Regions from separate parts of the Homo sapiens genome. Here regions 2 and 3 are each linked to region 1. The links come from fine-mapping of genetic effects on gene expression. A gene starts in region 1. Each other region holds a variant in brackets. All regions are shown on one strand. Distances are from middle to middle.

Region 1 (8,175 bases):
GCAACTTAACTGGAAGTGCATCAAAAATAAGATAGGGGCTGGGTATGGTGGCTCACACCTATAATCCTAGCACTTGTGGAGGCCAAGATGGGAGAGTTGCCTGAGGCCAAGAGTTCAAGACCAGCCTGGGCAACAGAGAGACCCTCATCTCTATTTAAAAAACTCTGAAATTTAGCTGGGAGTGGTCATACCCACCTGTGGTCCCAGCTACTTGGGAAGCTTGCTTGAGCCCAGGAGGTCAAGGCTGCAGTGAGCTGTGATTGTGCCACCGCATTCCAGCCTGGACCATAGAGCAATACCCTATCTCTTAAAATAAAGGATTGATACGAAATCACCTTTGCAAAATTATGGCAGTAAGAAAAACCTGACATGGTTGACTCCATGTTGCTTCCTTTTCTTTTTCTTTTTTTTCTCTCAGCGTGTTGCTCTTGTTGCCCAGGCTGGAGTGCAATGGCACGATCTCGGCTCACCACAACTTCTGCCTCCCAGGTTCAAGCTATTCTCCTGCCTCAGTCTCCTGAGTAGCTGGGATTACAGGCATGCGCCACCACACCTGGCTAATTTTGTATTTTTAGTAGAGACAGGGTTTCTCCATGTTGGTCAGGCTGGTCTCGAACTCCTGCTCAGGTGATCTGCCTGCCTCGGCCTCCCAAAATGCTGGGATTACAGGAGTGAACCACCGTGCCCAGCTCTATCTTGCTTCTAACCTCCAACCTGGGGATAGGCGAAGGTAACTTTGGGAGGAATTTATAGTTCAACCTTAAAGCAAGGATGACATTAGCCCTCTCCAAAACTAAACCGCCTTTGTAAAACTAATGAAAAGCCACAAGTCTAGGATTTTTATAGGAGGGGCCTGAATTCTGCTAAGGTGTAGGTGTAGTTAAATGATAACCAGTCATTGCTCTGGAAGTCACAAGATTTGTAACTTCCTCAGTTACTCCTATAGATAACATCACTATTGTAGAACCTAAGACTTGCCTTTTGAGATGTTTCTTTTCTTTCTTTCTTTCTTTCTTTCTTTTTTTTTTTTTTTTTTTTTTGAGACAGAGTCTCGTTCTGTTGCCCAGGCTAGAGTGCAGCGGCATGATCTCGGCTCACTGCAAGCTCCGCCTCCTGGGTTCATGCTATTCTCCTGCCTCAGCCCCCAGAGTAGCTGGGACTACAGGTGCCCGCCACCACACCCGGCTAATTTTTTGTATATTTAGTAGAGGCGGGGTTTCACCGTGTTAGCTAGGAAGGTCTCGATCTCCTGATCTCGTGATCCACCTGCCTCAGCCTCCCAAAGTGCTGGGATTACAGGCGTGAGCCACCGCGCCCGGCCTTGAGGTGTTTCTTTTCAGACTTTTGCATTTCTGCTGACTCCACCCAGAGGCTGACTCAGCGCTTGAGGACTCCTCCTATGATTGCATCCCCAACCAATCAACATTTCCCATTCCCTAGCACCCTGCCTACCAAACTATCCTTGAAAAACCCTGACCTCTAAGCCTTTGGGGAGACTGATTTGAGTAACAGCTCCATCTTCTGCGTGGCCTTGTGCATCGCCAGCCTTGCGTCAGTGAAACTCTTTACTGCAATGCCAAGGCCTCAGTGAATTGATTTTGTCTGCGCAGTGGGCAAGAAGAACCCTTGGGCAATTACAGATAGATGAATAAAAGGATAGATTTTTTTAGATAGACATGAGATACTAAGCAAAACATTAATAGTTGAATCTAGGGTATATGAGTGTTCACTCTATGGTTCTTTCAACTTTTCTGTTATGTTTTCATATTAAATGTTGTAGGAGGCTGGGCATGGTGGGTCATACCTGTAATCCCGGGATTACAGCGGGTGGATCGATTGGGCCCAGGAGTTCGAGACCAGCCTGGGCAACATGGCAAAAACCTCGTCTCTACTAAAAATACAAAAATAAACCTGGCGCGATGGCGCAAGCCTGTAGTCCCAGCTACTCAAGAGGTTGAGGCACGGGAATCGCTGGAACCTGAGAGGTGGAGGTTGCAGTGAGCCAAGATTGTGCCACTGTGCTCCAGCCTGGGTGACAGAGACTTGGTCTCAAAAAAAAAAAAAAAAGGGCCAGGTGAGGTGGCTCACGCCCGTAATCCCAGCACTTTGAGAGGCTGAGGCGGGTGGATCCCACCTGAGATCAGGAGTTTGAGACAGCCTGGCCAACATGGCGAAACTCTGTCTCTACTAAAAATGCAAAAAAAAATTAGCCAGGCATGGTGGCGCACACCTATAATCCCAGCTACTCAGGAGGCTGAGGTGGGAGAATCACTTGAACCTGGGAGGGGGAGGTTGCTGTGAGCCAACACCTCACCACTGCACTCCAGCCTGGACAACAGAATGAGACTGTGTCTCAAAAAAAAAAAATGTTGTGGGAGAAGCCCAAAAATCATGTCCACTTCATTATATTCCATGGGGGGCATTCTGTAGCAGATTTACCAGGGCCCCATAAACCCCAGCTTCCCCAGAGGCTCCACAGGATTCTCAGTGGGTTCTCTTAGGGCAGTGGAGGATTGTTTGCCATGCTTCAAGGCACAAAGGTACTTAGCTAGGTGCTTGTCAGTTTTGGAGCCTCTTATTTTTTGTGGGGGAGTGTCCAGACTTCACTGAGGGTCAGTCCTCTGCAAACACAGCTTTGATGGAGTGGTTGGGTGGGAAGAGGTGGTGAGTGAGGAGAATGACAGCAGTTCCCAAGGCAGTCTGGCTAAGTCCTGCCATGGAGGTGGTTAAAAGACAGGCTCCTGACCCTCTCTGGAGAGAAGACTTTGGTACAGTGGGCCCAGGGCTCAGGAGGACTCCTTCATGCCCAAGGTTTCTGAGGGGACAAATGATGGTATTTCAAGGGATCAGACCTGGAGAGAGTGATGTCAGGATAGGTAAGGGGTGTAGGTAAGTTCCCCTGAATGCTCTCTATTGTTGCTTCTCTCTCATTTAATACAACAAACAGGATGGGCACGGTGGCTCATGCCTGTAATCCTAGCAGTTTGGGAGGCCAACATGGGAAGGCTGCTTGAGCCCAGGAGTTTGAGACCAGCCTGGGCAACACAGCAAAAGACCCCATCTTGATAAAAATAACAAAAACAAAAATGGCATGGTGGCGCTCATCTGTAGTCCTACCTTCTTGGGAGGATCACTTGAGCCCAGGAGGTTGAGGCTGCAGTGAGCTATGACCACACCACTGCACTCCAGCCTGGGTAAAGGAGTGAGACCTCAAATGTAAAAATAAAAATAACCTAAAAAATTCTTTCTTTCTTTTTTTTTTTCTTTTTTTTTTTGAGACGGAGTCTCGCTCTGTCGCCCAAGCTGGAGTGCAGTGGCATGATCTCGGCTCACTGCAAGCTCTGCCCCCCGGGTTCATGCCATTCTCCTGCTTCAGCCTCCCGAGTAGCTGGGACTACAGGCACCTGCCACCACGCCCGGCTAATTTTTTTTTTGTTTGTTTTGTATTTTTAGTAGAGATGGGGTTCCACCGTGTTAGCCAGGATGGTTTCGATCTCCTGACCTCATGATCTGCCCGTGTTGGCCTCCCAAAGTGCTGGGATTACAGGCGTGAGCCACCGCGCCCAGCGAATACTTTCTTTATAGGATCAAAATTCCCATATTAAGCCAAAAGACAATGCTGAAAATGTCATAACCCTGAAAGTCACTTTGGGCCAAGGCCCACTGTCCCCATTGTTACTTTCATTGTGACAATAGTGTGGTGGGCAAGGAGGGAGGCCAGAGTCCGGTGGGAACTGGGTTTTAGGAGGAGGTATCTGAAGAATGTGTAGTGGGTCGGGGGCTGGTGCGGTCAGAAGGGCCACCTCTAATTTCTGCCTTGCATTGGTGACTAGATCTGCACTTTCTGGAACTCCCAGAGAAGTTTGCTGGTGCCTTTGAGGGCAGGTACAGGGCCTGCCTTATCCAGGTAGCCCTGGGGTGGGTGCGGGTGTCTCGGGCAGTAGGCAGGGGCTGAGGGGAGGCTTACCTCTGACACAAGACCTGGGTACAGCAAGGGCATGCAGTAGCATGATCAAAGTCCCCCCAGAGTGGTCCGGGCAGCGTCTCTAGTTGGGCCAGAGCTGGGCAGGTGGGGACCTGTGTTTCCCTCGAGGGGAGGCAGCCTCCCCTTCCCCTTCTGTGAGGCCCTGTAACAAGACCTACCTCGGATTTTCAGGAGGGCCAAATGCGAGGACATGTACAATACCAGCTCCGCAACTGACACCTAGTAAACAGTGAACGTAGCTGTTGCTATTATAACAAATACCTGTTCCCTGTGGAAAATGGTTAAATGTCAACTTATGCTTTTAAATGTCTATAGGGAAACTAGTTTTATGGACATTATTTATTCTTCTCATCTGCATTTGCAGTGTATCTCGGCCCAGCTGCTTCTAATTTTTTGCCATTATAAAACAGGGAACATGAGCATCTTGTGCAGGGTGGGTTTTTTGTTTTTTGTCTCACTGTGGCCTCGACCTCCCGGGCTCAGGTGATCCTCCTACCTCAGCCTCCTGAGTAGCTGGGACCACAGGTGCGCGCCACCACAGCCGGCTAATTAATTTTACTTGTGGAGACGGAGGTCTCCTACGTTGCCCAAGTTGGTCTCTAACTCCTCGGCTCAAGCGATCTTCGCGCCTTGGACTCCCACAGTGTTGGGATTACAACCGCGAGCCACCGTGCCCGGCTTTCTGCAAGTTCTTGATGACCGATGAGAGCCGGTGGGCCCAAACCCGGCGGGCCCTAACCCGGCTTCACGCTCCGCCCGGCCCGGCCCGGCCCGGCCGTCCATACTTCCCTCCGGTGTCCACCAGAGGGCGAACGGGAGACGCGAATGTGGTTCGACTACGCATGCGCACGCCGCTGGGCGCACGTGCGGAGGGCGGCGGGGCGGGAGGGTAAAGGTAGGAGGTGAGAGGTGAAGGGGCGGGCACCCGGCGGCCAGGAGAGAGAGGGAGGGCGCCACGCACCGGACTGCGGGCCGAGAGCGCGCACGCCGCGCTCCGCCCCTGCTGCCGCCCCCGTCGCCGCCGCCGCCGCCGCCGCAGCTTGGGAGGTGCTGCCACCACAGGTACCGTCACGCGGGTGCTCAGGGCGCCTGCCCGCGGGCCCCAGCTCGACCCCAGCCGCGTGGAGCTGGGAGTTCCGGAATGGGGGCCGCTAGGTTCGGGGGTGCGTGGGCATGGCGCTGTCCAGCAGCCGTGCGGGCCGGCCCTGGAGACCGCAGGCCGGCAAGGAGGCAGGGCCGCGCGTCCCCACCCCCAACCCGGCCGTGTCCCTGCACCGGCCGGCCCCTGGAGCTCCGCGTCCCCACCAGACCTCCGCGGGCCCCTGGTGTGACGGGGGGAGATGCGCGGCGTCGCATCCCCTGGCCTAGTTGCTCCGGGAAGCTGTTGTAGAACCTGCTTTGGTGCTGTTTGGGTTTTCCGGAGTGCGGGGGAGAGCAGGTTCTCCACTTTGCCTCTTTTGGAAGATCTTATTGAGAGACAACGCTAGTTGCTTTGCTGGTTTTGCTTGGTTTCTAGTTTTCCGTATTGCTTAAACCTCAACTTTGCTCACTAATGTTGCTTCTGTTTACTTCTGAGTGGGTTTATGACCTCAGTATTTAACCGGCTTATAATGTCACGATAGCGTTAGTTGCAGGGAGCCCTGGCTCCGGACTGTTTGAATCACAGAAAGTTGTGCAGATGGGAATGCGGAGGGGGGGGCAGTGAGTCGCTGTGGGGGCTCTGGCAGGGGTCAGCCCCTGGTTCGGGTCACTCACTGCTCCACCTTGTATGGCGACAGTCGGAGCTAGGTGAATAAACTCTTTCTGGGGATTTTGTAATACTTATCGTGAAGCGGCCATAGAAAAGGTTTAATGTTAGCGTTGCGTGTGTTTCTTTTATTTGGCCAAAAATTTGTGGAGTTTGGTTATGCCGTGTCTTTATTGGTTTGCTGTCAGGTCAGGATATTGAGCAAAAGACTGACGCTTTTATTAGGGAGTCAGGGTCGAGGGTGTCTAGTTAGTGCTGTATCCATTTTAGGTGTTCCTCAGTGATGCCTAAAGACTTGTTTTTTGTTTGTTTGTTTGGAGACAGGGTCTCACTCTGTCTCCCAGGCTGGAGTGCAGTGGCGCGATCTCGGCTCACTGCAGCCTTGATTTCCTGGGCTCAGGTGATCCTCCCACCTCAGCCTCCCCAGTAGCTGGGACAGCAGGTGTGTGCCACCACGCCCGGCTAATTTTTGTATTTTTTTGTAGAGATGGGGGTCTTGCTGTGTTGCCCAGGCTGGTCTTTAACTCCTGGGCTCAAGCATTATACAAGCCTTGGCCTCCCAAAGTGTTGGTATTACAGGCGTGAACCACCGTGCCCGGCCAAGACCTGTATCTTTTAAAATGTGTGTTAATATAGTTTACATTTTAGGTGTTTTACACATTTGCAGTATTCCCACTGAGCACATGATGTAAAAAACACTATATAAATATATTTAACACTGTATAAATATATTTCCATATTTATTCTTTTGGTCATAAATTGAAATGGAAAGAATTAGGCTTTTTAAATTTATTATGAACTGATCTGATGTTTGAATGCTCTCTCTTTTCTTTCTTTCTTTTTTTTTTTGAGATGGAGTCTCGCTCTGTCGCCCAGGCTGGAGTGCAGTGGCGCCATCTCGGCTCACTGCACCCTCCGCCTGCCGGGTTCAAGCGATTCTCCTGCCTCAGCCTCCCAAGTAGCTGGGACTACAGGCGCCCGCCACCATGCCCGGCTACTTTTTTGTATTTTTAGTAGAGACGGGGTTTCACCGTGTTAGCCAGGATCGTCTCTATCTCCTGACCTCATGATCCGTCCGCTTCGGCCTCCCAAAGTGCTGGGATTACAGGCGTGAGCCACCGCGCCTGGCTTGAATGCTCTCTCTTTTCTTTTGCTGTTGCGGCAAAAACGCCCCCTCTCTAGAGATCTCCGTGGACTTTATAATCACTGGTTTGGGGCCCTTCCCCCGTTCCCTCAGTCACTGTCATTAGGTGGGTAAAAAGTTTACTACAAGTTTATTACTAGAAAAATGGAGGCATATGCGATTCAGGAATTAAATAAACTAAAAAAGGAAAGAAAAAGTGTGCCTGTGGGCTTCACTGCAGGTATGTATATTAACATTTGGTGGTAGACTTTAGGGATGTTTTCTCTCTCAGAATCTAGCCATGCATGTGAATGTGCCTCAGGGATCCTGGAATGACAGGTTCATGTGCTGTTTGCTTACTCTCACCATTGGTGGTTGCCAGTGTTTTACCGGCTCTGACAGGTACTTCATATACAGTTTGTGTCATCACCCCCGTTGAACAGATGAGAGGACTCCTCATAGAGAAGCTGGGTTCTTACAAGGTCACCCAGCTTGTCAAGGGTGGATCATCCTTCAAACCAGGTCTGCCACACCTCTGCCACCTGAGCTCCTTCCGTTAGAACTTGCTACCTTACTGAGTTGGCTAAAGAAACAAGGTTCAGGTGTCGTCTTTTGCCACTCAGAGTAATAATTCTGGGTGATATCGAGCACTTGTGCTGTTTAGGCAGTGTCCTAGGTACTGTAATATTAGCTTATCTCACTTAGTTTTCATAATAACCAGGTGAGATAACACTGTTATCACCCCCTTTACGGAGAGTTTTAGAAAAGTTATTTGACTGGCCCTGGGTCACCTAGCGAATTTGAGACGGAGTGTGTTGTGTGCAAACTGAGATTTGGCTGACAAAAGAGTCCATCCTTTTATGCTGTTCTTGTACCTGCTTCCACAGTCTGTTTTTTTTTTTTTTTTTTTGAGATGGAGTTTCGCTCTTCTTGCCCAGGCTGGAGTGCAATGGCGTGATCTCAGCTCACTGCAACCTCCGCCTCCCAGGTTCAAGCGATTCTCCTGCCTCAGCCTCCTGAGTAGCTGGGATTACAGGCATGCACTACCACGCCTGGCTAATTTTGTATTTTTAGTAGAGGCGAGGTTTCTCCCTATTGGTCAGGCTGGTCTCAGACTCCCGATCTCAGGTGATCCGCCCGCCTCGGCCTCCCAAAGTGCTGGGATTACAGGCGTGAGCCACTGCACGCAGCCCACAGTCTTTTCTGTTGCTCATTGGCAGGTAAGGGTAGTGGAAGAAGGTGGTAGGGGTGGTGGGAGGAAGCCAGCGTCACTGACTCTAGTGTGGGGATGGTGGAACTCAGCAAGAAGGTGACAGCAAT
Region 2 (8,175 bases), 200 kb after region 1:
GGACAGGATCCAATGGACTCTAGAGCCCATCAAATCCAAACCACCCCCTCACACACTGCTAATGAAGAAATTAATAAAATCCCATCGTTAATTGTCTTTTAATAATTTTACCTTTAATAAATTAATAAGTTTACCTTTACCCTCGTATCTGACACAGAAGAATTGACATTTGTTCACATTCATAAAGCTTTCTAATGATTGATCTGTCATTGTATAATCGCCCATGGGGTGCAGTAAGAATATCTTGAGTTCATTACTGTTTAGCTTATCAAAACAGCTGGAGAAATACTTATCAAGAGAAGTGGAAAGATATATCCGTCCCTATATCCTCACCCTGAGAATGCTTCTGAAGGCTTAGGACAGTGTAAGAGTGTTAGATATTTTCATTCAGCAAACAATTATGGGCCTACTCTGGGCAGCATTGAGACATTCTTCAAAGGAAAAATTCAAGGGCAAACTGCCCAAGCCTCGCAGGTCCTAGCGGTCAGAAAAGAGCTCACATGCAGCCCTATCAAATGTGTCCTGCTGGACATGGTTTTCAGCGAACACAGAAGCACAGAGCATTTAATGTGTGAGTGGACCAAGTCTTTCTTTCTTTCTTTTCTTTTTTTTTTTTTTTTTTTGAGACAGAGTCCCACTCTGTTGCCCAGGCTGGAGTACAGTGGCACAATCTTGGCTCACTGCAACCTCCGCCTCCCAGGTTCAAGCGATCGTCCTGCCTCAGCCCTGCTAGTAGCTGGGATTACAGGCACGTGCCACCATGCCTGGCTAATTTTTGTATTTTTAGTAGAGACGGGGTTTTGCCATGTTGGCCAGGCTGGTCTGGAACTCCTGACCTCAGGTGATCTACCTGCCACGGCCTCCCAAAGTGCTGGGATTACAGGCGTGAGCCACCATGCCCGGCCAAGTCTGTCTTTCTTCATCTTAATTTTTCTCTCTGTAGCCAGGTATAGCTCCTGCATTAGGGCAGTCAGTGTAAGATTTCAGCAAGAGTCTTTACATCAGAAGTTCTCATCAAGAAGATTGGAATCTACCACTGACCTTACCCAGTATGTCCCTAAGCCAGCTGCTACTACAATGGCTTACTATGAAGGGGCATGCATCTAAAAATCTGCTGATGACACCCTCAATTTACTCTTAATTCCTATGTCTGAGAAGTCCATAGCCTTCTCTGTGGCTTTCATTTCATCATCACTCACTTTGGCTCATAGCGTGTGTGTGGAAGTAGATGTTCACCATAATGCAGAGCTGAGGGAGGCCTCACTGCCAGCAACCAGAGCAATGAGGCTGGAGCCCAGGCCTCTGTTACCAGGCTCACTATTCCCTCTGGCATAATTCAAGGCCTCCCTATGCTTATGGAATCTATCTAAAACTTGTTTAATAAGAACATGATAAATTTGACCTCATATCATAGGTGGGGAAACAAAGACAGCACCGTGTGAACTAGGGTTAGAGGTGCTAAAACTAGAAAGTGCTCCACTCTCCTGATCTTTCCATCTCCCTGCAGGAACTCTCTTCTCCCATCCCAAAGAATTCATCTGGAATATCAGCCCCTACGTGGGAGTCCCCATTCATCCTACAGTTCATTTCCTCTGTTCCCTCCAGATTAGGCCTCAGCTATCAGTGATTTTTTTTATACCCATTTTTGAACAAATAACATTTTTTTCTTTCTCACTCTTTTTTCCTAGAGCATTGATATTCACTTAAAAAAAGACATTCGGAGAGGAGTTGTCAATAACCAACAGACAGACTGGTCGTTTAAGTTGGATGGAGTTCTTCACGATGCCTCCCAGGACTTGGTTTATGAGACAGTTGCAAAGGATGTGGTTTCTCAGGCCCTCGATGGCTATAATGGTAACTTAATTAATTAAATGTTGTCTTATGTAAGAACCTGAGGAGTAAGAGATGCAAATATTTTATGGTGAATAAAATAAAAGCTCACTCACTATCATTTGTATGTTTGTCTGTCTCCATGTTCTTACGTTGCAAAACTTACTGTTTGCTTGTTGACATTGTGGGCATGGCTTGATCCAATGTCCTGGGATTCTACCTTCATAGGAAAATTAAAAGACTATGGCTCTCTATAGGTCACAGGGGTTCAATTATCCTGTTTCAAATCTCTCAAGTATTAGTTTTGAAGATACGTCTTTATGACAAATTTGATGGAGTCCAAACATTTGTCTCTCAGCTTCCTGCTAGGAGCTATTTTCATGTATTCTACCAACACAATCAATGTACAGTTGATATTCTAGTATAGGATTGTATAAAAGAATATGTCACAGTTTGTAGACTTTGCCATCTGGTGGCTGCTGACTAGGATGTTCCCTGTTTTGCAAGTTTAGGTTTTATATTTAAAAGTGCATTGAGTGTAGATGCTGTAATTTATCCTGAATGTGATACGTAGGTGTGGTCCCCACTGACTTAAGGAGGTTCTCTTTTGGTTTTCATGATGCTCTGATTGTGACCTTGAGGAGGTGAAGACAGAGGAACTAAGGCCCAGGGAGATGAATAGTCTTGAGCACTGGTGCTGTGGAACCACAAATGGGCTCTGATTTGCAGCTGAAGTGACTCCTTCCTGTTCATTTGTGTTGGGTTAATAGACACCATTTCTGGCTCCAACTCAGATGCTGAATCAGGATCGCTTGTGTAAAACCTGCCACCAGTCCCAAGAACTAGAGTGTCTGTGTGACAAAGGCAAAAAATTTTCACAGCCCAGCATTGCCTGGGCAGATCTGCCATGTAAATGCCCATGGGCAGCCTGTGGGATGGGGTCTGGCTCAGGCTGCCCATGCTAAGGGGAAGAACAGATAGGAGCCGGAGCTCAGGGTGACTGCATGGTTTGTGTCCCGGAGCCTGGTGGTGATGGTAGACCTAAAGGATGTTGAGAAGTGCAATGAAAGTCTTCCCAGGGTGGGCAGTGGACCAGATCAGGGCCTGATCATGGTGGTACATTTCTGGAAGTGACATGGAACCAACTAGGAGCCCTGTTTCATCCTGCAGGAATTTGTAGTCTACAAAGAATTCTCACCCTTGACAGAAAATGCCCTTTCCACTCCATCTCTTCCTGGAGATTTTGAAAGCCCCTCTTTGCCTCTGTGGGGAAGTTGATGCCTCCTGCCAACCCTGAGACCCTGGCAGTTCATAGCTGTGCTAGAGAAGGGCTGGAGTCTAATGCTCCTATCTCCCTCCTCATCTTTTTAGGAAAAGTTCCAGTTCCTCTGTACCCTGAGATTCCCTGTCCTTCTCAGAAGCCCTAGGGCCGGATCATCTCTTGGTGGAGGGAACAGCAGAGCATTGTGGGGACCACAGATTCAGGGCAGATGTCCTTGTTTTGACCACTTTTGTCCCTGTTCCCCTGCCCACCCATCCTCTTCCATGGTGGAATTCCTGATGTTCTTGGCTGCCCCCACTGGCCATCTTCATGCAAAGGGCCCTGGCTGGCACCAGGCATGCTGGGAGAGGGGAGAGTTATCCTTGGAGCTATTTTCCTGGATGTCACCGTGTTTTGAAATGTTTGCAGGCACCATCATGTGTTATGGGCAGACGGGAGCTGGCAAGACATACACCATGATGGGGGCAACTGAGAATTACAAGCACCGGGGGATCCTCCCTCGTGCCCTGCAGCAGGTAGAGAGTGGGCCCAAGGGTGGGATGCCACACAGGTTCCCTCTCTCTGCCATAGATGTTACTGACCCTGGGCCAGCTACTAGAGACAGTGGGGACCAGGCCTCAAAGGAGTTGCAGTGGATACTGGTACTGGAGACAACATACACAGGGCTCTGGAGTCAGTAGAGTCAGGGGCCTCAGGAAACCAGGAGGTTGGGTGTCAGACTCTGAGCCATACCCACACTGAGCCTGTTTCCTCATTTGGGAAGGAGGGAGTCAGGCATGCTAATCAGCCTCTTGCTGCTCCAGTGGTCTGTGATCCTGTAATTAAGGATTTGGAGGTCCTAATCATTCTCTTTCCTGGTTTTAATGAGGGGCATATAGACCCTTGCAGAACTTCCTTACTGGCCTACTCTGGCTTTTTTCACCACCACAGCCCCTGAAAGATCAAAAGCAAGAAGGAGGGCATGACTTGAGCTTTCAGGACTGTGTCAGCCCGGGGGGTCTCAATAGCATAACTGAAGATAAGACAGAAGGGCCTTCCTTTGGGCCCCACTAGCCTGGGT[T/C]CTGTAAGGACCCTCTGGTCGGAGGTAGGAGGCAAAAGCTGCCAAGAGGCAGCTTTACAGCCCTGTCCTATAAGAAGTGTTATAGGACAGGATTTTTTGCAGCCCTGTCCTATAAGAAGTGTATACATTCCTCTAGTATGTGAACCATCCATGCTCCTGTTTTTGGAGCAATACCCTTAATATCCCACTGTCAAAGCTTCAGTATCTCAGCATCTTAGACTTTAGTAATCTAGCCCAGTGCCACTAATAGAAATATACTGTAAGTCACATGCAAATTTGAGTTTTCCAGTAACCACATTTTAAAAAGTAAAAATAAACAGATGAAATTAATTTTAATGATATATTTTATTTAACTAAATATATTTAAAATATTTCCGCATGTAATCAATATAAACTTATTGAGATAGTTTACATTCTTTTTCTCATACTAAGTCTTTGAAATCCAGTACATATTTTATACTTGGGGCACATTTCAGTTTAGGCATAAATATTATCAGAAATGCTTGATCTGTATTTAGATTTCATAAAATGTTGAAAAAGTAGATTTACATACCCAAGTTGTTCCAGACATACTTAAAGTTTACCAATAACTGAATTGCATCAGTTTTTAAATCTAACTGTAATTAAAATTACATAAAATTTAAAATTCAGTTCATTTGTACTAGCCACATTTTAGATACTCAGCAGCCATCTGTAACTTGTGTCTACTATTTTGAACAAAACCGGTCTAAATTCTTAGAGGAAGGCAGGACCTCAGGAATTATCCCTTCCTTGATAAGCACTGGGGAGGGAATTAGGAGTTGAGAAGGCTGAGTTCTGGCTTTACTTCTACCCTTACTAGCTGAGTGACCAATAGACAAATTATTTATTTATTTATTTATTTATTTTTTAGATGGAGTCTCACTGTCACCCAGGCTGGAGTGCAGTGGCGTGATCTCATCTCACTGCAAGCTCTGCGTCCTGGGTTCAAGAGATTCTCCTGCCTCAGCCTCCCGAGTCGCTGGGACTACAGGCGCACGCCACCACGCCCAGCTAATTTGTGTAATTTTAGTAGAGACAGGGTTTCACCATGTTGGCCAGGATGGTCTCGATCTCCTGACCTCATGATCTGCCCACCTCCGCCTTCCAAAGTGCTGGGCTCACAGGTGTGAGCCACCACACCCGGCTGACAAATAATTTTATTTTGTAGTGCCTTCCACAAATACGTATTGCTCCTGCACTGCCTCATTCACAGAGATTTATATGTGGATGGAATTAAATAGATTTGAAAGAGGCATATAAATGATGAGACTCTAAAATAAGAAATCCTCACTCCAGAGTCCTTTCCACTCATTATGCCTCTACTTCGTGAGATGGTTTAAGTGTTAGCCAATCTGATGTCAAGCCTCAAAACACTACAAGATGATACTAAATATCACCCAATTCCTTTAGGACAATAATTATTCTATACATCTTGATGTTCCCTTCTGAGTTAGGAAGCCCCCCTTATGCTAGTTGGCTGTTGGGGTTCTGCTCTTGGTGACCGCTGTACAATCTGTCATCTAGGTTTTTAGGATGATCGAAGAACGCCCCACACATGCCATCACTGTGCGTGTTTCCTACTTGGAAATCTATAATGAGAGCCTGTTTGATCTCCTGTCCACTCTGCCCTATGTTGGACCCTCAGTCACACCAATGACCATCGTGGAAAACCCTCAAGGAGTCTTCATTAAGGGCTTGTCAGTTCACCTCACAAGTCAGGAGGAGGATGCATTCAGCCTCCTTTTTGAGGTGAGATAATAAAACCTGAGGGTTCCTTTCCTTCTCTCCCTCCCTGCCACCCTCCTTCTCAGCTTTTCTTTTTCTTTTTCTTTTTCTTTTTTTGAGACAGGATCTTGGTTTTTCTCCAAGTCTGGAGTATACTGGCATGAACATGGCTCACTGCAGCCTCGACCTCCTGGGCTCAAGTGATCCTCCTGCCTCAGCCTCCCAAGTAGCTGGGACCACAGGAGCATGCTACCATGCCCACTTAATTTTTTTTTTTTTTTTTTTGTAGAGACAAGGTCTGGCCATGTTGCCCAGGCTGGTCTTGAACTCTTGGGCTCAAGCGATCTTCCCACTTCGGCCTCTCAAAGTGCAGGGATTACAGGCAAGCTACTGTGTCCAGCTAGTTTTTTACTTACTTTGATTATCAGAATGGAAATTAATATATGCACATTTAGCAAGTTCAGATAGTGCTGAAAAAAAAAAGGAACAAAAAAGAATTTTATTTCCTCTTCCTTTCCTGTTACGTAAATAAAAAGAAAAAATGATTCATGCATAATCTGTTTTTTACATAAGGCAACAATAATGTATATTTTAGCTCATTTCCTTCCAGTCTTTTTTCCTGTGCAGCTTTTTCTTTACATAGTTGAAATGATTCTTATGTCCCTTTTTTCAGTTAAATTATGAGCTCTTGTATGGAAAAAAATAAGGCCGGGTGCAGTGGGTGATGCCTGTAATCCTAGCACTTTGGGAGGCTGAGGTGGGTGGATCACCTGAGATCAGGAGTTTGAGACCAGCCTGGCCAACATAGTGAAACCCCATCTCTACTAAAAATACAAAAAATAAGCTGGGTGTGGTGGCGGGTGCCTGTAATCCCAGCTACTAGGGAGGCTGAGGCAGGAGAATCACTTGAACCCGGGAGGCACTGGTTGCAGTGAGCCAAGATCGTACCATTGCACTCCAACCTGGGCAACAAGAGCAAAACTCCTTCTCAAAAAAAAAAAAGAAAAGAAAAAGAGAAAAATAAGAATTAGCATCCTTACTATACAAAAGCTCTTAGAGCCAGGTGCGGTGGCTCATGCCTGTAATCCCAGCACTTTGAGAGGCTGAGGTGGGTGGATCACCTGAGGTCAGGAGTTCGAGACCAGCTTAGCCAACATGGTGAAACCTCATCTCCACTAACAATACAAAAATTAGGCTGGGCACGGTGGCTCATGCCTGTAATCCCAACACTTTGGGAGGCGGAGGCAGGCGGATCACAAGATCAGGAGATTGAGACCATCCTGGCCAACATGGTGAAACCCCGTCTCTACTACAAATACAAAAATTAGCTGGATGTGGTGGCGCTAACTCCCAACTACTCAGGAGGCTTAGGCAGGAGAATAGCTTGAACCCGGGAGGCAGAGGTTGCAGTGAGCTGAGATTGTGCCACTGCACTCCAGCCTGGCGACAGAGGGAGACTCCATCTCAAAAAAAAAAAAAAAAAAAAAAAAAATTAGCTGGGAGTGGTGGTGGGCACCTGTAATCCCAGCTACTCGGGGGGCTGAGGCAGGAGAATTGCTTGAACCCAGGAGGCAGAGGCTGCAGTGAGCTGAGATTAAGCCATTGCACTCCAGCCTGGGCAATAGAGTAAGACTCCATCTCAAAAAAATAAAATAAAGGCTCTTAGAAACCAGTCAAATGCACTGGCACAGTGGCTCACGCCTGTAATTCCAGCACTTTGGGAGGCCAAGGCGGGTGGATCACTTGAGCTCATGAGTTCAAGACCAGCCTGGGCAACACAGTGAAACCCCACCTCTACCAAAAATACAAAAATTAGCCAGGCATGGGGGCGCATGCCTGTGGTCCCAGCTGCTTGGGAAGCTGAGGTGGGAGAATCACTTGAGCCCAGCAGGTAGAGGTTTCAGTAAGCTGAGATCATGCCACTGCACTCCAACCTGGGTAATAGAGCAACACTCTGTCTCAAAAACAAGAAAAGAAATCAGTCAAGTGTATGTTATTCTTTTAGAAGTCATATAGGCTAGGAACTCTTTATTTTTTTATGCAAGTTCTCGCTGTGTTGCCCAGGCAATGGGCACATGTGCAATGGCTATTCACAGGCATGATCATAGTGCCTTCTCACAACATAGCAACTTACTTCCTCAACGTCAATAGCAGGATCTTTTTTAAAGGGCCAGAAAGACAAGGCAAGGCCAGGCGCGGTGTCTCACACCTGTAATCCCAGAGCTTTGGGAGGCCGGGGCAGGCGGATCACTGGAAG
Region 3 (8,175 bases), 54 kb after region 1:
AAGAAAGGAGCAGGGGGAGCTCCTGAGAAAACTTTGTCCCCTTTGTGATTTTCCCAGTGCCCCTGGAGACTATAGAGAAGCTCAGGCACCATAGAGAAGTTCCCTTTCAACACAGGGGCAGGAGGGAGGTCCTGATGGACCCTCTGTCCGGGGATTGTCTTTGTCCCCAGAACCAAGAGCAACACTTCCATTTACCCCCACCCTGCTCCTTGACCAGGTTCCTGGGCAGCCTGCGTGCCCGCCTGATGCTTCTGCACCCCAGCCCCAACTGCAGCCTTCGGGCGGAGAGCCTGGTCCACGTGCACTTCAAGGAGGAGATTGGTGTCGCTGAGCTCATCCCCCTTGTGACCACCTACATCATCTTGTTTGCCTACATCTACTTCTCCACGCGTAGGTTCATGGCAGGGAGGCTGAGGGCTTTCTCCAAGCTAAACGGGCATTTCCATGTCACCTGCTTCCCTGGCTCTGGAGGTGGCTTGGGGTAGAGAGATAGAACACACCTGGTGGTCATCAGAGCTAGGGCTTTGTCCCCCAGCAGGGTCTTAGGAGCTTGGGTGGGGCCGGGGCTCTTCCCACTTTCAGCCCCTTCCTGGGTTAGGGTTCCTAAAAGGTGTACTGTGTCCATGACACTGGGAAGTGCTTGTGCCTGTCCCTTTCCTTTGGTGAAACCAGGAGTTTTCCCTTCCTCGACTGTCAGGGCAACCTACTCCCGGGAGCCCCAGTGGGCCGGGGGCTGGGGGAGGGGCCGCCCTGATACGCCCTCTCTGCCCTCCAGGGAAGATCGACATGGTCAAGTCCAAGTGGGGGCTGGCCCTGGCTGCCGTGGTCACAGTGCTCAGCTCGCTGCTCATGTCTGTGGGACTCTGCACACTCTTCGGCCTGACGCCCACCCTCAATGGCGGGTAGGTCCCTAGCAGGCTCCACTGGGCCACAGGGTGGGCTCAGGCCAGAGAGCCTTGCACTTCTGGGTTCTTGGCCTTCCCTGGACTTTGCTGTGACCTCACGTCTTCACATTGTTGTTTTTGACATTTAAGAGGTACATTTTCTTCCTCTTCTTTGTCTGGCTTGTATTCATACTTGTGTTTGTATATAGCATATCTAGCTATAGTGAGTGTCCATATGTACAAAAGTGCATATTTGTGGGCTGGGTGTGTATATAAGGGGTGTGTGTTGGTATGTTTGTGTATACATGAGTATGTATTGCATGTGTGTAGTCGGATTTGTGTGTCTGTGTTTATGTATTCTATATACACACACCACACACACACTGCAGCTTGATGGCTTAAGCCACTGGAGGTGTGAGATAGAGAAGAGAACATTTTTTTTTTCATGATTAGAACATTTAAATGCCTAATGAAATAGGTCATTTTAGAGGAAGCTCTTTGGAAGATATGAGCACACTGTAATTTGTCGCCTTTTTCACTGATGTTTACTTTCCCCTTGCCACTCCTCTCTGAACCTTAGTCTGGAAGCCCTTCCCTCGGCTTGTCCTCAGGCTTTGATCTTGGCTCTGGCTAGGCCCGCCTGCCTGTCTATTAATGGTTATTAATGGATTATGGATTGGCCTGTCCACCACTTTGGCCCATCAGGCTGGTCGTATGAAAAGCGACGTCGTATTTTGTTTCTGGTAGTTTCGTTGCTCTTAGATACCTGCTCCCTTTCCTGAGCTTGACACTGTTAAACACCACCCTCCCCCATACCGTCTGCCATACCCTTCACAGGGCCCTCCCTTCCTTCGGCTCCAAAGCAGAGGTCCTGCAAGGTATAACTTGGCTGGCGTTCCTCGCACATAGACTTTCTTAGGGTTTGCTGCGGGGAGTGTGGGACAGTGGGCTCAGATAGCTGGTAGAGCTTTGTGTAGGAACAGTCGTTCTTCTCCACACACAGCTTCTCAACAAAGGTGAGTGGGCCTTCAGGATGGTTTCATCTCCTTGCATTTAGCTGTGATGGGTCCACCCAGAGTTACTGGTGTGGGTCTTGGCAGCAGTCATTGTCTTTAGCCAGCAGTCTTCTCCTGGGAAGGGCCAGCAGAAGTGTGGTCTAGCAGTGGCGCTGCACAGCTCTCCCTGAGGGGCCTCTTCCAGCCCTCCTGTGCTGGATGGCTAGAGACAGGATGGCTGCTGGCCCCTCTGCAAGGCTCTGGAGCCTGCCTGAAAGCTGAGTGCTGTGTAGATGCAGGTCTTGTTGGGTGAGGTGGACAAGGGAGGGTTTCTGCCCAGCACCTGTGGGAGTCACTCAGCAGCCCCCATGACAGGCTGGAAACCCCACAGCCTTCCTGAGGGCCCCAGTCTGTTGGGAACCACCACAACACTGTCCTCACCTTCTCCTTCTCTGTCCCCAGCGAGATTTTCCCCTACCTTGTGGTGGTTATTGGGTTAGAGAATGTGTTGGTGCTCACCAAGTCTGTGGTCTCAACCCCGGTAGACCTGGAGGTGAAGCTGCGGATCGCCCAAGGTAACGCAGTGGGAGAGTTGGGCAGAGGGCTGCAGGAGGGGCTGGAATGGGGCCTGTTCCTCTTGCTGTTAACGCTCTGTGAGCAAACAGAGCCCTTGAAATGTCCCTTGCTCTTGCCTCCGGCATAATATGCAGTGGGCCACTGGGCCCTGGCAGCTCTTGAGTGTGTGCCCTGGGGAGCCATGGGGCCATTGGACTGTACTTCGTCCTGGTTCATGTGTCAGTAAGAAAGTAAACCAGGCTGGGTGCCATGGCTCACACCTGTAATCCCAGCACTTTGGGAGGCTGAGGCAGGTGGATCACTTGAGCCCAGGAGTTCAAGACCAGCCTGGGCAACATGGTGAAACCCCATGTCTACAAAAGATAGAAAAATTAGCAGGGCATATTGGCATGCACCTGTGGTCCCACCTACTCAAGAGGCTGAGGTGGGAGGATTGCTTGAGCCTGGGAGGTCAAAGCTGCAGTGAGCCGTGATCACACCACTGCACTTCAGTGTGGGTGGGGCTTGTGTTTGGTGGTGGCTTTCTGTCTGGGGAGTTTAGCGCCTAGTATTTTCTCTTACTGCCTCACTCCAGCACACTAGGCCCAAGCCCCGGGGGCTGGCCATTTCAGAGACGCTGCCTTCACGGCTGCCAGAAAAGCTCCCTCTGGCCCTGCTGGTAGAAACTGGGGATCTGGGGTTCTAGGGAAAATGAGAAAAGGGAGAGCCTGGCCTTGGAGGCCTGGTCACTTGAGCCTCTTCTTCCTCGTCACCCCATGTCTGTGAGGAATGGGGCTGTAGGCAGCCGTCCATTCATCCAGACCTCTGTGAGCCTCTGTGATAAGCCAGGCCCTGTGCTGGATATGGAGTTAGGAAGAGATGGGGCGAAATTGTCCTTACCCAGTAAGAGCACAGAGCCTTAGACATGCGACAGTGTGATAGCGTGGGATCAGGGCTCACTACAGGAAGGGGCTTGAGGAAGAACGCAGCCAGGTCCTCTACCCGCCGAGTGCTTCTGCCATGTGGTTGATGGGCACACTGTCATGCTGGCCCGTGCAGACCAGACAAGAACCACATGCGGAGGTTGGATGTGGTTGTTGTGGGTGGCACTTGGCTTTCCTTGTGGATTTTCTCATCTCCACACTCTGCTTCTTCCCTCTTTTGATGATTATAGCTCTCCTCTGCACCCTCCAGGCTGTGAACACCCGTTCCCCGTAGCAGCTGTGTGGTGGTGATGGCCCCTTAAAGTCTGGGCATTAGCAGGACCCTGAGGGTTGGGGTGCTTTGGTGGAATGGCTCCTTCAAAGGGCTGGGGGGCCTTGCCATGCCTCTGCCACTCCGAGGCCCATGAGGTTGTGTGAGTCATGTCGCAGAGTGGCCATGTGTTGCCCTGTGCCCTGTTGCTGCCCTCTGCAGGCCTAAGCAGCGAGAGCTGGTCCATCATGAAGAACATGGCCACGGAGCTGGGCATCATCCTCATCGGCTACTTCACCCTAGTGCCCGCCATCCAGGTAAGGCCCCAAGGCCTGCCACCTGGATGAGCATGGAAGCAACTGCTGTGCTCCCCAGCTGTGCAGCCATGGGCAGGGTGCTCCCCTCTTCAGCACAGGCATCCTTGCTTCTGAGGTGGGACCTCTTTGCCTGGCAAGCAGATCACTACAGCACCCAGATGGCCCCTGGCATGCCTGGCTCAGAAGTGCTCAGCAAACCCTGGCTGGGTTCCCAGATTGAGCACCTAGCCAGGCAGACTCTGCCCTTGACCCTGTCTTCCTACCCCTCCCTGCCTGCTTCCCTTTCAGCCAAGTGGCAGGAGGAGGCTGCAAGGGCATGGCAGGAGCTGGGGACTGGCTGTGCAGTTTGTCACACCTGTTTCCC[A/G]TTTTTGAGGGAGAAGCACCGTGGGGTTCCTAGACCCTTCCTCCGGTCTCCTCCCTTGGCCCTGGCCTGTGCCGCAGTCGCCAGACGCATGGCCTTGCCTGGCCTGACCAGTGGGAGGGCCACCACCCATTGCCCAGAGTGACCCTGCTCTTGGCAAAGTGCCCTCACTCAGCTGTGGGCTGTGAGCAGAGGTGGAGGTGGCCCTGCACTGAGCTGGAACCCCAGACTGATGCCAGCCATTCCAGAAGGAGTTGCAGGAAGGGGAGGATGCCATCTTTTCTCGCCCGTCTTTCCCCCAGGGCTGGCAGGCCAGCTGAGGGATGGGGGTGAGCAGAGAACAGATGGGCTGTGGGCTGCTTCTCCTGGAAAAACAGTAGTATCTGCAGGATAGGGTACAGTCTTGGGACGTTAGAGCTGAGACAACCACTGTGCCACTATCTGCACTCCATGGTCTTACCCCAGATCGGAGTAGCACTGTGGTGATGTGCTAGAGGTCTCAACACCGACATCTCAGAAAATTTTGTCTGCTGACAGAGCTTGGGGAGCAGAGAGCTCACCCTTTTTCAGTTTTAGAGAATTAATCCCTCTCTCTCTCTCTTCATTGTTCCGGGGCAGTTGCTGGCTGGGAACCTTTCTGAGAGCCCCTGAATCAGGCCTGGGCTCTAGCTGGGTTGGTGATGCATGAGCAGGGCGGGGGCTCAGTGGGGAAGGACTTTTTGGGGAGCAGGCTGGTGGGGCTTAGAGGTTTCCGGGTTGGATCAGGCCTTCAGTCCCCTCTAGAGGGACCGGAAGATTCAGGGAAGGTACTTCCCCTTCCCTTTCAGCCCTTTCTGAAGAAAGTGTGAGGGTTTCTTCTGCCCCCTGGTGGAGACGGGGTGAGCTGCTGCTGGTATGTGAGCTGAGGACCAACCAGCATCTCTCATCTCTGCTGTGCCCTGCCTGCTGCTGCCCTGCCGGTTATGAGGTGGCTGCAGTCCGGGTACTGCTCCTCTTGGGCTGGGACAGTGAGGTCACGGCACCCCCCCATCCCCATGTGCTCTGATTCCAGGAGTTCTGTCTCTTTGCTGTCGTGGGGCTGGTGTCTGACTTCTTCCTTCAGATGCTGTTTTTCACCACTGTCCTGTCCATTGACATTCGCCGGATGGAGGTAGGAGTGGGCTGAGCCCTGCCCTGCCCGCCTCCTCAGCCCTGGCTGTACTGAGGGAGTCCTGGGTGAGAAGGGTGTAGACCTCGGGCAGGACAGCGGTCCTGTGCGAGCAGCCTCTGGATGGTGGACTCAGGCCCTGACCACTGTGCCCCCAACAGCTAGCAGACCTGAACAAGCGACTGCCCCCTGAGGCCTGCCTGCCCTCAGCCAAGCCAGTGGGACAGCCAACGCGCTACGAGCGGCAGCTGGCTGTGAGGCCGTCCACACCCCACACCATCACGTTGCAGCCGTCTTCCTTCCGAAACCTGCGGCTCCCCAAGAGGCTGCGTGTTGTCTACTTCCTGGCCCGCACCCGCCTGGCACAGCGCCTCATCATGGTACCTGCCACCCCTGCCCTGCCCTGCCCTCTTCTGGAGGGCCGGTGCTCCAGGCCCCTTGTGGTGCTGCACTTGGCCTTAGAGTGGCAAAGGGTATTCCTCAGGCCCTGGTGGCCCCTGGAAGCCTGGCTCTGGGGAGTTGCCCGTTGTGTCCTCCCTGCCCAGACCCTAGTGGCTTCTGAGGAGATAAGCCTGTGGGAGAAGCAGCTCCAGGGTTCTCAGGTACAGGAGCCATCCTCTCCCCAGAGTGGCCCAGGACAGGAGCCTGTTAGTTGAGTGCTCTGGGATGGACCCACTTGTGGCCACCACATTGCCCTGGGTCGGGTTCATCGGCCGCTGCATGGTGTGCAGACACTGGAAAGTGCTGGGCAAAATCATTCACCAGCCGGGCTGGGCTGGCCTTGGGGCAGCAGTGCCTCTTCCAGGGAGCTGAACTGAGATGGGAGGAAGGCTGAGGCCCCCTGGGACTAGGACCTCTGGGGGACTCTGGAGCAGGTCAGGTTGCTGGCCCTCTGACCGTAGGAATGGTAGCAGCTTTCTGGCTCCAGCTGAGGTGGAGCTTAGGGGTGGGGACATTCTGTGTCAAACCTCAGGGTGCTTCAGTGTATTTCCAGGCCAAGAAACTCAGCCCCTAACTGTGGAAAGGCAAGCAGGCCCCTCCAGCAGCAAGTGTTGGCAGGTGTTAGCAGGAGGACTTGGAGAGGCAGGAGAAAAGGACGCAGTGGGGCCTGTGTCCTCTCTCCATCCCCAGGCCTGAGGTCCCTGTGCTGCTTCCTCTCAGCATGAGGGCTGAAGCTGCTGGGGGTTGGGGCCCATTCCTCCCACTGAGTACCCCCTGCCCCACTGCAGGCTGGCACCGTTGTCTGGATTGGCATCCTGGTATACACAGACCCAGCAGGGCTGCGCAACTACCTCGCTGCCCAGGTGACGGAACAGAGCCCATTGGGTGAGGGAGCCCTGGCTCCCATGCCCGTGCCTAGTGGCATGCTGCCCCCCAGCCACCCGGACCCTGCCTTCTCCATCTTCCCACCTGATGCCCCTAAGCTACCTGAGAACCAGACGTCGCCAGGCGAGTCACCTGAGCGTGGAGGTCCAGCAGAGGTTGTCCATGACAGCCCAGTCCCAGAGGTAACCTGGGGGCCTGAGGATGAGGAACTTTGGAGGAAATTGTCCTTCCGCCACTGGCCGACGCTCTTCAGCTATTACAACATCACACTGGCCAAGAGGTGAGCTGGGCCGTGCCAGGTGCCACCTCACTCGATGGTGTCAACTCACCATCCCCTTTCCCCAATGCAGGAGGCCCACAGGTTTGAATTATGCAAATAATTAAAACAGTTCATAAGGTTGTGAGGTGGGAACTGGTGGTTTAGGCAGCTATAACCCAAGAGAGGAGTCCCAGGTTGCTCTGAGGAGTCACTGGTGGCTGCCAGCCCTCACCAGAATGAGACCCACCCACCTGTGCCAGGAGTGGGGAGGGAGATACCCCACACGGCCACCAGGGCTGTTTGGGTGCTGGTATCTGGGACAGCAAGTTGGCTGCTAAGCTGGGCTGGGGAGGGACCTACCTCTGTCCCCAACCCCCCATGCTGGGAGAGTCTGGCCGGTGGAGCTGAGGCCTGCCTGGGGAGGAGGGAGAGGACTGGCTGGCGAGCACAGCAGGAGGAAGCCCTGGGAGGCCCCCCGCTGAGGCTGCCCACTGTCCGAATCCAGGTACATCAGCCTGCTGCCCGTCATCCCAGTCACGCTCCGCCTGAACCCGAGGGAGGCTCTGGAGGGCCGGCACCCTCAGGACGGCCGCAGTGCCTGGCCCCCACCGGGGCCCATACCTGCTGGGCACTGGGAAGCAGGACCCAAGGGCCCAGGTGGGGTGCAGGCCCATGGAGACGTCACGCTGTACAAGTAAGGCTGCTGGGTGGGGTGGGGTGGGAAAGAGTGCGGGGAGGGGGACGGGTAGGCAAGAGTAGGGGAGAGGGAGGAGGGGAGGGGACAGGCTGTGAGGTGTGTCTCACAGCAGTCCGCCCTCCCGTGCAGGGTGGCGGCGCTGGGCCTGGCCACCGGCATCGTCTTGGTGCTGCTGCTGCTCTGCCTCTACCGCGTGCTATGCCCGCGCAACTACGGGCAGCTGGGTGGTGGGCCCGGGCGGCGGAGGCGCGGGGAGCTGCCCTGCGACGACTACGGCTATGCGCCACCCGAGACGGAGATCGTGCCGCTTGTGCTGCGCGGCCACCTCATGGTGAGCAGGGGCACAGTGGCCGGGTAGGGGAGGGCCGGAGCCTGGCCCATACCAACACCGGGCTTCTGCAGGACATCGAGTGCCTGGCCAGCGACGGCATGCTGCTGGT

The links. PIP is the estimated chance that this variant, and not a neighbour inherited with it, causes the effect.
Region 2: its variant is fine-mapped to the expression of SCAP in whole blood (TOPMed, PIP 0.98).
Region 3: its variant is fine-mapped to the expression of SCAP in whole blood (INTERVAL, PIP above 0.99).

The regions. Positions count from the first base shown.
Region 1 is chr3:47,472,671-47,480,845 of GRCh38, reverse strand. SCAP (SREBF chaperone) reads left to right here and starts at 4,905. Exons shown (of 23, transcript NM_012235.4): 1 at 4,905-5,047. It overlaps LOC105377073 (a long non-coding RNA gene), which reads right to left and starts at 4,901. Exons shown (of 3, transcript XR_940821.3): 1 at 4,482-4,901; 2 at 4,144-4,204. RefSeq lists a silencer at 4,818-5,357.
Region 2 is chr3:47,269,004-47,277,178 of GRCh38, reverse strand. KIF9 (kinesin family member 9) reads left to right here. Exons shown (of 21, transcript NM_182902.4): 3 at 1,689-1,854; 4 at 3,521-3,627; 5 at 5,718-5,942. Among named protein-coding and RNA genes, the nearest start is that of KIF9, 9.7 kb to the left of the region's middle. The variant T/C (reference allele first, on the strand shown) is at 4,173.
Region 3 is chr3:47,418,212-47,426,386 of GRCh38, reverse strand. SCAP (SREBF chaperone) reads left to right here. Exons shown (of 23, transcript NM_012235.4): 7 at 218-390; 8 at 776-902; 9 at 2,342-2,454; 10 at 3,851-3,945; 11 at 5,358-5,456; 12 at 5,615-5,833; 13 at 6,683-7,059; 14 at 7,544-7,732; 15 at 7,865-8,066; 16 at 8,138-8,175. Among named protein-coding and RNA genes, the nearest start is that of PTPN23-DT, 41 kb to the right of the region's middle. RefSeq lists an enhancer at 4,826-4,875. The variant A/G (reference allele first, on the strand shown) is at 4,310.